Linked DNA regions of Homo sapiens: region 1 is linked to region 2. A link means that fine-mapping ties the variant in region 2 to the expression of a gene that starts in the linked region. Tissue or cell type: caudate. Region 2 holds a variant in brackets; the other region holds the start of a gene. All regions are shown on one strand. Distances are from middle to middle.

Region 1 (8,083 bases), 99 kb before region 2:
GGGGACTGTGTGTGTGCATGTGTGTGTATCCCTCTTCCCCTCCCCATTTCCCACCTAACAGCTTTGAGTTCTAACTAGGCAGGTGGGAACCAGCCTGATTAAAAGGGAGATGGAGAGACTGCCATCACTTTGATCCCAGAACCTTTAAATAGAAATCCTGTGTCCTTTAGGGGCCCAGAGACAGAAGGGTTAATGATGGAATGGTGAAGGGGAGCGGCTCCTCTCACCACCCCTTTCCCCTCCACACCCCCGTCTGGGCCTGGCTCAGCCAGTCAGCCGGGTACAAGGTCGCCCTGACTTGCAGCCAGCCCTGGGGTGGGGCAGGGCCACCTGGCACACACAGACAGACAAGGTGCAGGGAGGGAGCCAGGTGTCCTCACCAGGACTGGTTAGGGCCAGGTCCCCAGGCACTGTCCCAGGACAAAACCAAGGCTTCTGACTCCCCTTGGTTCACTATCTCCTGTGGTCAGTTCTAGCCATGCAGGCGGAGGAGGAAAACCAACACAAAGTAATTGACTTCAAGGATTTCATTTCGCAAATGTGAAACTGAGGCCCAGAGCTGGGAGGGACTTGCCTGGAGCTGGAATAAGAACCCAGAATCCTGAGTCTTTGTCCTTTTCTCAATATGCCTGAGGCAAGCAGAGTGTTAGGGTAAAACCTAGCGGTCAGAGGGGGCTGCTTGGACGTTGGAGAGGCTTTGGTAGGTTCAGAGTAACTTCTGTAAGTTCTCTCCTCCCACACACCCTGGGAGGAGACCAGGATGACTTGAGAACATTGGTTTTATTGGAGAACATCAGAGTGGCAGGTTAAGCTGATTCTCATTCACCTGGGACTGGTTTGGAATTTCCCAAACTAGTTACTCTGGGGATCCAGGCTGCCAGATAACATGGGTGACATTTCAGGAGTCTTACCCCAGGGGAGAATGAGCGGAGCGTGTGGCACCAGGCCCCTGTAAAAGGGGAAAGACAGCTTCTCCCTTTTCCTCCCTGCCCAGCTACCCTGCTGTGTTCTTACAATGAGTCAGAGAGCCTCCAGCTCTGACCCCCAGCTTCAGGGATGAGGGTGAGGAAACGAGAGGCCTGACATCCTTCATAGACTTTATCTCACAGGATTCCTAAGCTGGAGCAAAGGAAGAGTAAGATGGGGCAGAGTTGGGGAGATGCTGATATGGGGGCCACAGTTGGGCATCTGTCTTTTCCAAAGCAGGCTCTGGGCCAATGTACAGCCTCCCTAGGGAATGTGTCATAGAGACACAGGGTGTGTGGTGTAGGCGGGAAGTTATGGTTAGGAGAGCTGTGTGTGTCTGATATTTTTCTAATTAAATCCAAAAGGTGTCAGCTCCCCAGGGCAACTACAGCCTGCTCCAAAGGAGAGGACCCAGGTCTTGAGAAGGATCTAGGAGAGTGGAGCCCCCCTCCACACATCTAGGTTGGGGTTCCCTGCCGAGGGCTGAGAGCAAGTGTGAAAGCCCTCACCATTAGGGCCTCAGCCGGGGCTCCCAAACCTCAGACCCTCCTGGGCTTAGAGTAATGCCTAGAGCTAGACCTAAAGAACCCTCGGTCTTCTACCTCAGAACTAACCAGATTTGGGGCCTTGGTTTCCTCAAAGGCCCCTTAGTAGGGGTGCTGAAAGGGAGTGGTGAAATAGTATCATCATTTAGGGAATAAGCTTCTCAGGGTGTGGTGATTATATTTTAAAGAGGCCGTGTGCCAGGTCCGGTGGCTCACGCCTGTAATCCCAGCACTTTGGGAGGCCGTGGGGTGGGGGTGGGGGGAGGTAGATAACGAGGTCAGGAGTTCAAGACCAGCCTGACCAAGTTGGTGAAACCCCGAAACCCCGTCTCTACTAAAACTACAAAAATTAGCCAGGCCAGTGGCTCACGCCTGTAATCCCAGCACTTTGGGAGGCCAAGGCAGGTGGATCACGAGGTCAGGAGTTCGAGACCATCCTGGCTAACACGGTGAAACCCCTGTCTCTACTAAAAATACAAAAATTAGCCAGGCGTGGTGCCACATGCCTGTAGTCCCAGCTACTCAGGAGGCTGAGGCAGGAGAATCGCTTGAACCTGGGCGGTGGAGGTTGCAGTGAGCTGAGATGGCGCCACTGCACTCCAGCCTGGGTGACAGTGAGACTACATCTCCAAAAGAAAAAAAAAAAAAAGCCGGGTGCTGAGGCCTGCCACCGAAGGGTGGAAGCTGGAGGCGCTTGGACACCCTGGATGCTGCAGGGCCATGATGCCGGCCCAGCCACCTCTCCCCTCCCAGACACCTTCTGAGTCCAGCCCAAGGAGAATACTATCCCCCCCACCAAACTGCTAAGGACAACGCATCCCTTTGCTGATGCCTAAAAGGCAGCTTGGGGCCTGTGCCTGTCTGGCACTGCCTCCCTGGGTGGGTCAGCCTGCGCTGTGTAGGCCTCTGAACAGTCAGGGACCCCAGGGTTTTCAGGGCTAAAGCACCTCTGGCGGGTGGCATGGCTGCGCTGGGCAGCTCCCATTTTAATGTGTCAGGCCCTAATTTGGGGCCACAGGAGGAGGTATTCAACATCAGGGACCCATGGGAGTCAGTGGCTCCAATGCCCAGGGGAAAGGAAGGGTGGCTGAAGGAGAGTAAGAGGCTCAGCTGCTTCTCCAGACGAGGGTGAGGCTGCTGTAGGGAGGAAGGTGAGTACTGCTCTCCTCTTCCGCGGGAGGGTCTGTACCTCCGCTAGGCCCCTAGCCGGCTTCCGCGGACCACTCAACCCTATAACCAAGCCCCGGCACGGCGCCACCCCTACGCTCCAAGGGCAAGGAAGAGGAGCCGGGGCCAGCCCCTGCTCTGGGTGTTCGAGCCCACCGGCTCCTTACCTGAGGCGGCGCTGTCCCTGGTAGCCCCTCCAGCAAGCCGCTCCAGAACCCGGTTCAGAAGATGCTCGGGCCGCTCGGGGGCGCCCAGAGGGGCCCAGGGCGGCGAAGTCAAGGGCTCGCCTGGGGACAGCTCGTCAGATGAGTAGGAGGAAGGGGAGCGCAGGGGCCCCCCTCCCCCGAGAGGCCCGGGCCCCGGCACCTCCTCCAGCTGCAGCCAGCAGGGCCCCCCGCTGCCCGGCTCCTCCGCGACCCCCGCCGGCTCTCCTCCTTCCTCCTCAGGGGGCGGCTCCAGCCCCGGCTCGGCGGGGGGCTCCCGGAGGAAAGCGGGGAGCAGCAGGCGAGACACGCTCTGACGCCGCTGCAACGACCGCTGTCCCCCGGCTGGACCGCCGCCCCCGCCGGGTCCCCCACCCCCTCCAGGCCCACCGCAGCTCCCCAGACCCCCGCCGGGACCTCCCGCCACCGTTCGGCCCGCCAGCTGCGACGTCTGCTTCTTCAGAAATTTCTCCAGCGGCTTCATGCCCCCCCCCGCCCCTCTCCTAGGGGTCGCCGGGGGACCCAGGTATCCCAGGCGCGGGCGGGGGGGGCGGCGAAGACACGATGCTCAGAGCTGGAGGAGCAGAGTAGAGGGCCGTGCCAGGCGCCAGACTGGGGGCCAGAGGGGCCGAGCCTCGCTGGCCAGAGTCCAGTGGCCAGTAGCCGGGGGAGGTGCCAGAGGAAAGGAGTGCTCGCTCTCAGCAACCCCCCATGCCGGCTGCAGCCGGCACGCGGCCCGAAGAGTGGGCAGGCTGCGGGGCCGGTGCGCCCGGCTCTGCGCTGCGGCGGCAGAGGCAGCGGGCGGAGCGCAAGGCTGAGAGGACGCGGCGGCGGCGGCGGCGGCGGCTGCGCTCCTGGCCGTGAAGAGGGGGAAGGTGGCAGAACCGAGACCGCGCCCCCTCCTCCAGTCCCCGCCCAGTCCCCGCCCCTACCCTTCCTCGGCTCGCCCCCGCGCCGCACGAGGCTTGAACTCGCGCGCTGGGGTTGACCGCGAGGGAAACAGTAAGGGACTTGGGTTCTAAGCAGAAGAAATTAAGGGCAAAGGTAAGTCAGAGATTTACCAATGGGGAAGGATTCCTGGCTCAAGGGATAACCGGGTCTCAGCATCATTTCAAAGAGTCAGGACAGGTCTGTGGCCTGGACACCTTCACTCACCTACCTGTGTACCCAAGTCAGGCCTACAGATTGCTGAACCCAAGAGTGTGCACCTTTCTCATACTCACAGAAATATGTGGAGTTTATCTTCCTTCTGTGAGAAGAGCTGGGAAGGCCTCTTGGGTGAATTAGCATTGCCACTGGAGGCGGTGCCCATCTGTCCTCTCTGGTAGGGCACAATAGGTGGTGTGGGCCTGGTCTGTGGGCAGGTACTGGCAGGCAGGTAGGAGCCAGGCAGGGAGCAGCAGGTTGTGGCAGGTCTAGCTGGGGTGAGGAGGGGATAATAGGCAGTGGGGAGGAGACCAGGAGCACAAGGGCACCTGAGCCCAGCTGGCAGCAGAAGGAAGCAGGGCCATGGAGACAGGTGACAAGCCCCAGAACTGCCGACTATCATCAAGCACAGAGCCCAAGTGTACATGGCCATGGAGTGGGAAAAGTGGTGCCAATTAGCACTCCAAGTAATCCTTACTCCTGATGCCCACACCAGGAGCATTCTGTCCTTAAGGATATGCTGCCCCAGAAGGAGTGTGGGGGAGGAGGGGGGTGCATCGTAAAGCCATGCTAAGTGTGAGAACATCCAGGTTAGACTTACAAGGTGTGGGAGTGGCAGCAGGTTCTCGATGGGTTGAGGCTCTCTGGACAATGCCCCACCCCTGTTTACCGAGCACCAACCAGGCAGAGACAGGAATGCTAATGGCTGGGAGTGGTAGTAAAACTGAACAGGGTGTGTATGACATACGTATCAATGTATGTGCATATCTGTTCCCATGTGTGCTAGAGCATGTGTTCACAGAAATAAAGCTTTGCACACCCATCTGTTTGTGGATTTGGAAACAGTAAAAAGAAGACAGCGCACAATTTTGGCTAAGAAGCTGTATTAGAGGTCTGAGTATCAGCTTCCTGTGCTCCCCTTATTGGACACTCCAATATCCCCTGGCTTGAAAGGGGAAAGTGGCTGGAATGGGTTGGAGCTCCCCAGGTAGCATTTTATGAACTGAATAGGAAGAGGGAAGGGCTTCTCTCCCAGCACATGCCACAGTTACCAGATTAAGCCGGTTGCCTTGGTAACCTTCTCTCTGGGCAGGATTTGGGAATTGTTGGTTAGGAAGGGCGAATTGGGGAGTGTGAAGGGTGTAGGGGGTTGAAAATAAAACAGACTGAGAGACTTCTGGAAGCTAGAAGCTTGGGACACAGGACCCCAGTACTCCCCCAAATGCTCAAGGATGTCAGGCAGAGACTAAGTTCAACATTTTGAATCAGTGAGGAGAGCCAGCATCAAGTCATGGTCCTCCTGGAGTGGCAGTGGTTTTCACCCTGACTACACACTGGAATCACAGGGAAGCTTCTCAGAAATACTGATGCTGGCTGGGCTTGGTGGCTCACGCCTGTAATCTCAACACTTTGGGAAGCCAAGGCGGGCAGATCACTTGAGGTCATGAGTTCAAGACCAGCCTGACCAACATGGTGAAACCCCACTTCTAAAAATACAAAAAAAATTAGCCGGGCATGGTGGCACACACCTGTAATCCAAGCTACTTTGGAGGCTGAGGTAGAAGGATTGCTTGAACCTGGGAGGTGAAGGTTGCAGTGAGCTGTTATCATGCCACTGCACTCCAGCCTGGGTGAGAGACTCCATATTAAAAAAAAAAAAAAAATACTGGCCAAGTGCAACAGCTCACGCCTATAATCCCGGTACTTTGGGAGGCCGAGAAGGGTGCAACATGAGGTCAGAAGTTCGAGACCAGTCTGGCCAACATAGTGAAACCCTGTCTCTACTAAAAATACAAACATTTGCTGGGCATGGTGGCTGGTGCCTGTAATCTCAGCTACTCAGGAGGCTGAGGCAGGAGAATCGCTTGAACCCGGGAGGTGGAGGCTGCAGTGAGCCGAGATCATGCCACTGCACTCCAGCCTGGGCAACAAGAGCAAGACTGTCTCAAAAAAAAAAAAAACAAACAAACAAAAAAAAAACTGATGCCTAGGCCATATCTCAGACCAATTAAATCAGATTTCTGAACCAGGGCGAAGGCTTATGGTATTTTTTAAAAAGCTCCTCACATGACACAAATGGCCAGGATTGAAAATCACTGCCCTAGACGGACAGTCAACCCAAGTGGGCTGCAGATGCTGGGAGCTGACTTTGGAATTCCAAGTCTTTGGTGCTCCGAGTTGCCTACAAGGTAGCAGGTCTGTGCGCTGACCCTGAAGGGGAAGAGAGCTGGCAGAGCATTTGCACCCGCTTATGGAAGAAATAAAGAGGAAGGCAGGGTGGTATGAATAACAACTATGAGATGGGGGCGAAAAAGCTTTGAGCTTTTTTTGAGCCCATGGGCTTCTACAAGGGGACTGGGCAGGGCCACCTCAGGCTATCTGTCTGCTGCTTACACACCCTCTTCTTTCTGCCCACCCAGAGGCAGGCTGGGAGGATAGAGAGAACCTGGGGGCTTTGCTGAGCTTGAGTTTCTTCTTGCAGAGCTGGTTACCAGGGCAACAGAGAGAGCAATAGGGTCTAACTGAAGGACTAGGGAAGCAAGAGGCAAGGGTAAAGGGGAAGCATCCAACACTCAAACCTCCTGCCAGTAACCCACCCCCAAGGCTGGATGGCATTTTTTCATAACCCCAGGAGATCAGGCCTACAGTCACCCATCACATTGTGGGGAAGAGAAGCAAACTGACATGATTTAAAGAGGAATTAGGGGCCCAGCGTGGTGGCTCACGCCTGTAATCCCAGAACTTTGGGAGGCCAAGCTGAGCCAATCACCTGAGGCCAGGAATTTGAGACCAGCCTGGCCAACATGGTGAAACCCCATCTCTACTAAAAATACAGAAAAAAAGTAGTGGGGCATGGTGGCGGGCGCCTGTAAACCCCAGCTACTTGGGAGGCTGAGGCAGGAGAATCGCTTAAACCCGGGAGGTGGAGGTTGTGGTGAGCCGAGATCGTGCCACTGCACTCCAGCCTGGGCGACAGAGTGAGACTCAGTCTAAAAAAAAAAAAGGAATTAGGGACGGGGCTCAGAAAAGTCACAGTCCTCTGGCTGTGGCACCAGCACCAAGATATGGGGGAAGTCCCATCTGTCTTTATAAGATGTACAATAGTTGGGCACAGCAGCTCAAGCCTGTAATCCCAGCACTTTGGGAAGCCCAGACAGCGGGATCACTTGAGCCCAGGAATTCAATGACCCTATCTCTACAAAAATAAATTAGCTAGGTGTGGTGGTGCATGCTTGTGGTTTCAGCTACTTGAGAGGCTGAGGTGGGTGGATTGATTGAGCCCAGGTGGTCAAAGCTGCAGTGAGCCACGATTGTGCCATTGCACTCCAGCCTGGGCAATAGAGCAAGACCAAAAAAAAAAAAAAAAAAAAAAAAAAGATGTACTATGATATCTATGCCTCCCGTGTATGGATTTGTGAAACCCAACAAATGCTGCCAGCTCCATATGAAAGTTGCTCTCCCATACCAGAGATAGCTTCTGTAGTAAACTTCCATCCCACCCAGGACCTAGAGGAAAAAGTCACTTCAAAGGTAGGAACTGCCCTCTAAGCATCAAAGGCCAAGTGGACTAGGTAAACTGAATTATGACCCACAGTTGATTTGTTTTTTGAAATCATGTGTCCAGGCAGGTTATGTTATCTGTCCATTTCACTTTGGGATATTAGTGTTGCAAAATATTTGTTATAAGAAAGGAACATTGGGGCTGGGTGTAGTGGCTTGCACATGTAATCCCAGCACTCTAGGAGGCTAAGACAGGAGGATCATTTGAACCAAGGCGTTCCAGACTAGCCTGGGTAACACACTGAGACCTCGTCTCTACTAAAAACAAACCACAAAAATTAGCTGGGCATGGTGGTGTGGGCCTGTAGTCACAGCTATTTGGGAAGCTGTGGCAAGATTGCTTGAACCTTGGAGTTCCAAGTTACAGCAACCTATGATTGTGCTACTGCATTCCAGCCTGGGTGACGGGCAAGACCGTCTCAGAAAAAAAAAAAAAAGTGACTTTGGATCTGGTAGGGTGGAGAGCCACTGGCAAGGACATTAAGAACACAGACT
Region 2 (8,101 bases):
ATGGTGAAACCCCATCTCTACTAAAAATATAAAAATTAGCTGGGCCTGCCCCTGTAATCCCAGCTACTCGGGAGGCTGAGGCAGGAGAATCGCTTGAACCCAGGAGGTGGAGCTCGCATTGCACTCCAGCCTGGGTGACAAGAGTGAGACTTCATCTCAAAAAAGAAAAAAAAAAGAAAAAATTAGCCGGGAATGGTGGCACATGCCTGTAATCCCAGCTACTTGGGAGGCTGAGGCAGAAGAATTGCTTGAACCCAGGAAGCAGAGGTTGCGGTGAGCCAAGATTGTGCCATTGCACTCTAGTCTGGGCAACAAGAGCAAAACTCTGTCTCAAAAAAAAAAAAAAAAAAAAAAAAGGAAATCCAAGTAAAACCTCATTTTCCATTTTGCTAAATGACTTTAAAAACAACACTGACCCAAAAACCATTCTCATATATGTTGCCTGTTGTCCATGCAGGTGGAATTCATAAAACAGGGGAACCAAAAAAGTCAAGGAAAGGGACTGAGTATGAACTCTAGTAGGGGAAGAGAAAAATTTCAATTCTCTACATTGGGATTCACCTTTATTTTATTTTTTTAATTTAATTTTTTTTTTCTTTTTGAGATGAAGTTTCACTCTGTCACCCAGGCTGGAGTGCAGTGGTGTGATCTCAGCTTACTGCAACCTCCACCTCCCAGGTACAAGCAATTCTCCTGCCTCAGCCTCCCGAGTAGCTGGGACTACAGGTGCCCACCATTACGCCCGGCTAATTTTTGTATTTTTATAGAGATGGGGTTTCACCATGTTGGCCAGGCTGGTCTCGAACTCCTGACCTCAGGTGATCTGCCCACCTCGGCCTCCCAAAGTGCTGGGATTACAGGCGTGAGCCACCGCACCCAGCCTCGCCTTTATTTTAAAGGAAACACCTCAAAACTCAAGATGATTGCAATAATATGAAGAATTAGTATTTTTTCATGTTTACAATGTGTCAGTCACTTAGTAAACATAAGCCTTGCTGGCCAGGTGCAATGACTCACACCTGTAATCCCAGCACTCTGGGAGGCTGAGGCAGGCAGATCACTTGAGGCCAGGAGTTCAAGATCAAGACCAGCCTGTCCAACATAGCAAAACCCCATCTCTACTAAAAATACACAAATTGGCCAGGGGTTGTGGCGTGCACCTATAATCCCAGCTACTCTGGAGGCTGAGGTGGGAGGATTGCTTAGGATTGCTTGAGACCAGGAGGTCAAGGCTGCAGTGAGCTATGATCGCACCACTGCACTCCAACCTGGGTGACAGAGACCCCATTACAAACAAAAACAAAAACCCAAAAGATAAGCCTTGTCTTTCATGGAACATCACAGTGAACCCTCCAGACAACCCTATGAGGTAGGAACTGTTACTGCCTCCACTTTGCAGACAAGGAAACTGAAGCTTGGTGAGATGAAGCAATTTGCCCAAAGTCATGTGGCCGGTGGGCAGCAGAGTCAGAACTGGGCCTCAGGTATGGGACACCAACGTCTGAGCTCTCAGATTCCAGGGGCATTAAAATCACCAAAGGCAGCCGAGTGCGGTGGCTCACGCCTGTAATCCCAGCTCTTTGGGAGGCTGAGGTGGGTGGATCACGAGGTCAGGAGTTCAAGACCAACGTGGCCAACATCGTGAAACCTTGTCTCTACTAAAAATACAAAAAATTAGCCAGGTGAGGTGGCAGGCACCTGTAATCCCAGCTACTCAGGAGGCTGAGGCAGGACAAGTGCTTGAACCTGGGAGGCAGAGGTTGCAGTGAGCCAAGATCGCGCCACTGCACTCCAGCCTGGGTGACAGAGTGAGACTCCGTCTTGAAAAAAAAAAAAAAAAAAAAAAGTCACCAAAGGCACCTACCAAAGATACAGATTCCTGGGCCTCACTCCAGAACTACAAAATAAAACTATCCAAGGGTGGGGCCAAGGCATCTCTGTCTTTTCAGGGTGCTTCCCTGGGACTCAGATGTCCGTGAGAGTAAAAGATCCTTTCTCTATGCTACACTGTTTGTATTGCTTCCAGAAGGATTGTATTGCTTCTGCTAGGGAACTCTAAATCCCTCATGGTCTTGGTTTGGTTGACATCAAGAAAGAGAGAGAAACTTCAAGCCTTAAACTTTTTTTCCGTTTTTTTTTTTTGTTTGTTTTTTGTTTTTAAGACAGGGTCTTGTTCTGTCGCCCAGGCTGGAGTGCAATGGCTTAATCACAGCTCACAGCAGCTTCGACCTCCCAGCCTCAAGTGATCGTCCTACCTCAGCTGCCTGAGTAGCTGGGACCACAGGTGTGTGTGCACCACCATGCCTGGCTACTTTAAAAATTTTTTTGTATGGACAGGGTCTCACTATGTTGCCCAGGCTGTTCTTAAACTCCTGGGCTCAAGCAATCCTCCCACCTTGGCCTCCTAAAGTGTTTGGATTACAGGCGTGAGCTACTATACCTGGCCTTTAACATATAAATCATTCTGTTTCTTTTTTTTTTTATTTTGAGACAGAGTATCACTCTGTCGCTCTGTCACCCAGGCTGGAGTACACTGACTTAATCTCCACTCTCACTGTAACCTCCATCTCCCAAGTTCAAGAGATTCTCCTGCCTCAGCCTCCCAAGTAGGTGGGATTACAGGCGTACATCACTACACCTGGCCAATTTTGGTATTTTTAGTAGAGACAGGCTTTTACCATGTTGGCCAGGATGGTCTCAAATTCCTGACCTTACTCATTCGTTCATTTGCTCATTCATAATCCCTCCTCTGTCACTCACAAGAAAATTGCCTAACTTCTCTGAGTCTCAGTTTCTTCATCTATAAAATGGGGATAATCATTTTATCTACCTTATAGCACTGTTGGGAGAATTAAATGAGACAATTCACTTGAAGTGTTTAAAACAGTGCCACCGGGTGTGGTAACCTCAGGTGATCTGCCTGCCTTGGACTCCCAAAGTGCTGGGATTTAAATAATTCTGTTTCTTGGAAGGCCTTGCATTTTTAGGAGGTGATCCTGGAAAGGCTATCCAGGCTGAAATGATCAAAGTGAAATCTAATTAGGCCTCTTAAGCACTTTGGGATGCAGAGGCAGGCAGATCACCTGAGGTCAGGAGTTCGAGACCAGCCTGGCTAACATGGTGAAACCCTATCTCTACTAAAAATACAAAAATTAGCCAGGCTTGGTGGCAGGTGTCTGTAATCCCAGCTACCAATGCTGAAGCAGGGAGAATTGCTTGAACCCGAGAGGTGGAGGTTGCAGTGAGCCAAGATTGCACCACTGCACTCCAGGCTGGGCAACAGAGCGAGACTCCATCTCAAAAAAAACAAAACAAAACAATTAGGCCTCCCAAAATCTATGACCTTGTCATCCCCTCTGCCTGGAAGAACCTGCTGTCCTCTTCTCCTCTGTGCTCCCAGCTCCCACTACCCCCCCAGTACTGGCTCTCGCTCTTTCAGGTGCATGGGAAACACTCCGGGATTCTGTTAAAAGGAAGATTCCTGGGCTCCACAAAAGGGCTCTGAGTGAGCAGGGTTAAGATGAAGCCTGGGCAGGCTGGGCGCAGTGGCTCACACCTGTAACCCCAGCACTTTGGGAGGCCAAGGCGGGCGGATCACGAGGTC[A/T]AGAGATCAAGACCATCCTGGTCAACATGGTGAAACCCTGTCTCTATTAAAAATATAAAAGTTAGCTGGGCGTGGTGGCAGGTGCCTGTAGTCCCAGCCACTCAGGAGGCTGAAGCAGGAGAATCGCTTGAACCCGGGAGGCGAAGGTTGCAGTGAGCCGAGATCACACCATTGCACTCCAACCTGGGCAACAGAGCGAGATGCCATCTCAAAAAAAAAAAAAAAAAAAAAAGATGAAGGCTGGGAATCTGCATTTTAACTAGTAGGACAGGTGGTCCATGAACCACATTTTGAATAACACTGATGTTTGTTTCAAGTTGTGTCTCTCTCTCTGACAGGCTGTGAGCAGCTTGAAGGCGAGGTACGTACTACACTCTCACACCTAAGAATACACTGAATGAATGGGTGATGGCTGGCATTTATCAAATGCTTCTTATGCACATGGCACTATTTTTTATTTTATTTTATTATTTTACTTTGAGACAGAATCTTGCTCTGTCACCCAGGCCGGAGTGCAGTGGCGCCACCACCGTTCAATGCAGCCCTGACCTTCTGGGTTCAAGCAGTCTCCCACCTCAGCCTCCTGAGTAGCTGGGACCACAGGCATGTGGCACCACACCCAGCTAATTTCTTTAATTTTGTAGAGACAGTGTCTCACTGTGTTAGCTAGGCTGGTCTCAAACTCCTGGGATCAAGGGATGCTCCCGCCTTGGCCTCCCTCCCAAAGGGCTGGGATTTTAGGCATGAGCCACAGCACCCAATGGCACTGTTTTAAACACTTCAAGTGAACTATCTCCCAACATATTTAATTCTCCCAACAATGCTATAAGGTAGAGAGAATGATTATCCTCATTTTATAGATGAAGAAACTGAAACTAAGGCTCGAAGAAGTTAGGCAATTTTCCTGTGAGTGGCAGAGGAGGAGTTATGAATGAGTAAATGAATGAATAAGAGAAGAGAAGAGAAAGTAACCAGGCAGGTATGCCTGTAATCCCAGCACTTCAGGAGGCTGAGACGGGTGGTCACCTGAGGTCAGGAGTTCGAGACCAGCCTGGCCACATAGTGAAACCCCGTCTCTACTAAAAATACAAAAAAACTAGCTGGGTGTGGAGGTGCATACCTGTAATCCCAGCTACTCAGGAGGCCGAGGTAGGGGAATCACTTGAACCTGAAGGCGGAGGTTGCAGTGAGCCATGATCGCGCCACTGCACTCCAGCCTGGGGGACAAGAGTGAGACTCCGTCTCAAAGAAAAAAAAAAAAAGTGATGACCTAACAGGCGGGCTTTAGGTGACATAGGGAGTAATATGGGGGCTCAGGTGGCAGGGGAGGGGCAGGAGGTAGCTTCCATACCTTGCAGCCCTCACAAGTGATACAGCGGTAGTGATAACCAGTTGCCTTGTCCCCACACACGACACACTGCTCGTCTTTGTCCAGGTAACTAGGGATATACCCTGGGAGGAAGGAAAGGATGGAGGAAGGCAGGCATGGCTTGGAGTCCCAGCAGAGAGGCTCTCACACTTTTCCCCATCCCTCAACTTTTTGTTTCTGACCCCTCTCCTAGCCCAGCCTCCCTGGTAGAATCCTAGAGAGACACGAGGTGAACCTGTCCATCTCTGCCCTAAGAGTATGAAGAATCTCAGTTCTTCTGACTGCCCATTCAGGGCTTTCTTCTTGATCTATCTACAAGGCAGAGGATGGTGGAGAGGGAAAAATAAACGTCAGCTGCTCACTGGGGATAATACAGCCCCTCAGTCCTTCAGCTCAGGCCCTGATTCTGGTAGGGCCTCAGATGAGGGTATTAGGGGAAGAGGGAAGAGGCCGTCCTGACCTAATCCACCCTCAAAAGCTGGGCACATCCCACATTACCTTTCTCACCCCCAGACAAGTCCATCCCAAGCCCTCTAGGAGGCTCCCCCCAGGGAACACATGAATTACTGTTCCACATCCAGGTCCAGAGGAGCCCTGGCTGGGTTTGGTGGGGTTGGGGACGTGGAGAAGGGGCACGCACAGCCAGCCTCACCTGACATGCTGGTTTTCAGGGAACATTGGCCGTTCTTTCTTTTTCGCTTTCCATCTGGTGACCTGGCACTGGATGGAGGCAAAGTGGGCAGAATCACAGAGCAGTCTTCGAGTAGCCCCTTTCTCATCCGAGAGGCTTATGCAATCCCCCAAGGCCTGATTCTTTCCATTTTGTGTCCTCATTCTACCTCCCACCCCCCAGGGTCAGCTGACAATGCTTAAAAGGGTCCAGTTATCTGGAAGTTGCAGGGGAGAGAGATAAGGGGCTTGGCTGTGGCACAAGCATATTCTAGAGCCCCAACACACACACATTCACCCGCCAGAAGACCTGAAGCACCCATAATCTGCAGGACATCCTCATCTTTCAGTACATGACGAATACGCTGGAAGAATTCTCAGGATATGCTTAAAGCTATGTAGCCTTTAGAACACACACATACATATGCAACATAACACCGGCACAGATGAATAACCATGCAACCTTCACTATAAACCCATGGATGGTGAGTATGCACCAGGGCCAACATACCTGTGAAATTTTCAGGGCATTCTTAAATGTGCTATACAACCTCTAGGATATGCCCATGTGTTACACAACACTCTGCACAGGCACCTCATAAAACCACCCTCATCCCTCCAGTGTGCACGTGTTGCTTGAGCTCCAGGTCATACACACATGCTAAATAACCCACAGCAATAGAAAACACTACACCCTCTGCACAGCCTCCATTTAACAGAGCAGCAAACTGAGACCCTGCTTGTGCCTGGTGACACCATGAGCTAGAGTCAGAGCCGGGACTGAGCCCCTCTGTGCAGCGTATTATTAGCAACCCTCAGCCACTGCACATATATGTTGCCAGGCTCTCCACATACATGTTGCATAACCTCGGTGCACACAGGTTACATAAGCCCTCTACATGCATGCAAGGATTGTATAACCTCCCGCACCCACCCTGCGTGTGGCATGTTGCAGGCCCCTTCCTCCTGGAGCCGGATGCAGCTCCCAACACACTGACACAGTGACCTTGGCCAGGGTCACAGTCACAGACAACCCTATGCTCCACGCCCCGTGGGGATTACTCCGGTCTACTTCCTATGAGGCTGAAAGGTCAGGTCTCCCTCACGCCTCCCAGAGGGTTGGGTGCAGGGGAACTCAGCCCACCTAGGCCCCAGTTGAGCTAGCGGCTTCAGCAGTTACCACCAGACTCACAGCCTCTGAGTGTAGTCCTAGAGATAGCCACAAGGTGGCGCATAGACATGGGGGAGGGGAAGGTGATGGGGGAGGGGTTGCAGTCTTAGGAGACTGGGAACTGGCATTCCTGCCTTTCTCCAAACATTAAGCACAGACTCTTCCAGACCCACAGAAGCCTAAGCTGGGAGACACAGGGGCTGCAAGTGACAGCCACACAGCGACAGGCCAGATCGTCCTCAGAGTCCTTCCTGGGGTGAGGCTTTGGGGGAGGGGAGCTACCCCATGCCCTGCCCAGCTGTGAGTTCCATCTACTTCCTCTACCCTCCAGGGACCCAGTTGTGGGCCTTAGGGCTTTGCCTGGCCAGGCCTCTGGCTTCCTGGCTCGGGATCTGATCTCCTAGGCAACAGTCAGCCACACTGCTCCCCGGAGCACCCCCACCCCCACCCTCTCCCTGGCCATAGGCACAGGCTGTACCCAGCTCCCAGGGCACCGTGCCAACTGGGACAAAGCTCTGTGCCACTTGGAGCTGATAGAAAAGACAGAGACCCTCTGGGCTCCTCAAGGGCAATGCAGATCACAGGTAACCATCCCTTGGTGTATGTGCAGGGCTGACACCTCACCCATGTGGAAGCAAAACCATCATGGTTGGCGTGCACTTTCTGGGAGGAGCCCCATCGCAGTGCCCGCCCTTGACCATGAACAAGGAAGAGCTTGTGGGGCTCCCAATAGATTCCGAATATAAGCTTGGGCTATGACCAATAGTTACTGGTGCATGTGCCCTGAAATGTATTACGTGAACCGCAGCTTGTGGACAACACACTTGTGGTCAGATAGTAAATGGGCTGGTAGGGAGAGGAAGAAAATGGCAAGGCTGTTTGGATCCCACATGCTCAAGGTAAGGGCAGCAATGGTGGAAGGGACGTTGGGGGCATCTGAGACTGCCCAGCAATGTCTAGGGAAGAGCCCCTTATGTGCTCCCTGTAATTGCTCTGTATCGCTCCCCGCTTCAAAATGAGCATCTCTCAATCCAAGTGCCTGTCACATCTGAACATGACTTCATCTGCCAGACAAAGGTAGGCAGAAGGCTTGCTGGCCTCACGTCCATCCCACAGAGGTGCTTAAAGGCGGTGCCTAAAGGAGAGCTCAGCCAGGTGCCCATGCCTGCTGCTTAGGAGTTGGCATGACCTAGTTGCTGAACCCATTACCTGTTCTCCTCTGGGTCTGACCCACACTCCACCTTGCTTGGCTTCTGTTCCATTCACTTCAATTCCATCCAGGATGCCC

Direction of the effects. Positions count from the first base shown, and alleles are read on the strand shown. Sizes are in standard deviations (SD) of each study's normalised expression.
As copies of T replace A in region 2, the expression in caudate of the gene that starts at base 3,757 in region 1 goes up (small effect, 0.36 SD a copy in GTEx).

The links. PIP is the estimated chance that this variant, and not a neighbour inherited with it, causes the effect.
Region 1: it holds the start of RAPGEFL1, and the variant in region 2 is fine-mapped to the expression of RAPGEFL1 in caudate (GTEx, PIP 0.98).

Annotation. Positions count from the first base shown.
Region 1 is chr17:40,173,144-40,181,226 of GRCh38, reverse strand. It overlaps RAPGEFL1 (Rap guanine nucleotide exchange factor like 1), which reads right to left and starts at 3,757. Exons shown (of 15, transcript NM_016339.6): 1 at 2,846-3,757. The coding sequence starts at 3,365. RefSeq lists enhancers at 1,774-2,628, 2,629-3,485, 3,877-4,377, 4,378-4,878 and a silencer at 3,716-3,845.
Region 2 is chr17:40,074,463-40,082,563 of GRCh38, reverse strand. It overlaps THRA (thyroid hormone receptor alpha), which reads right to left. Exons shown (of 9, transcript NM_199334.5): 2 at 8,023-8,101; 3 at 5,626-5,693; 4 at 4,956-5,056. The coding sequence starts at 8,075. Among named protein-coding and RNA genes, the nearest start is that of THRA, 16 kb to the right of the region's middle. RefSeq lists enhancers at 6,722-6,801, 6,925-7,780. The variant A/T (reference allele first, on the strand shown) is at 3,605.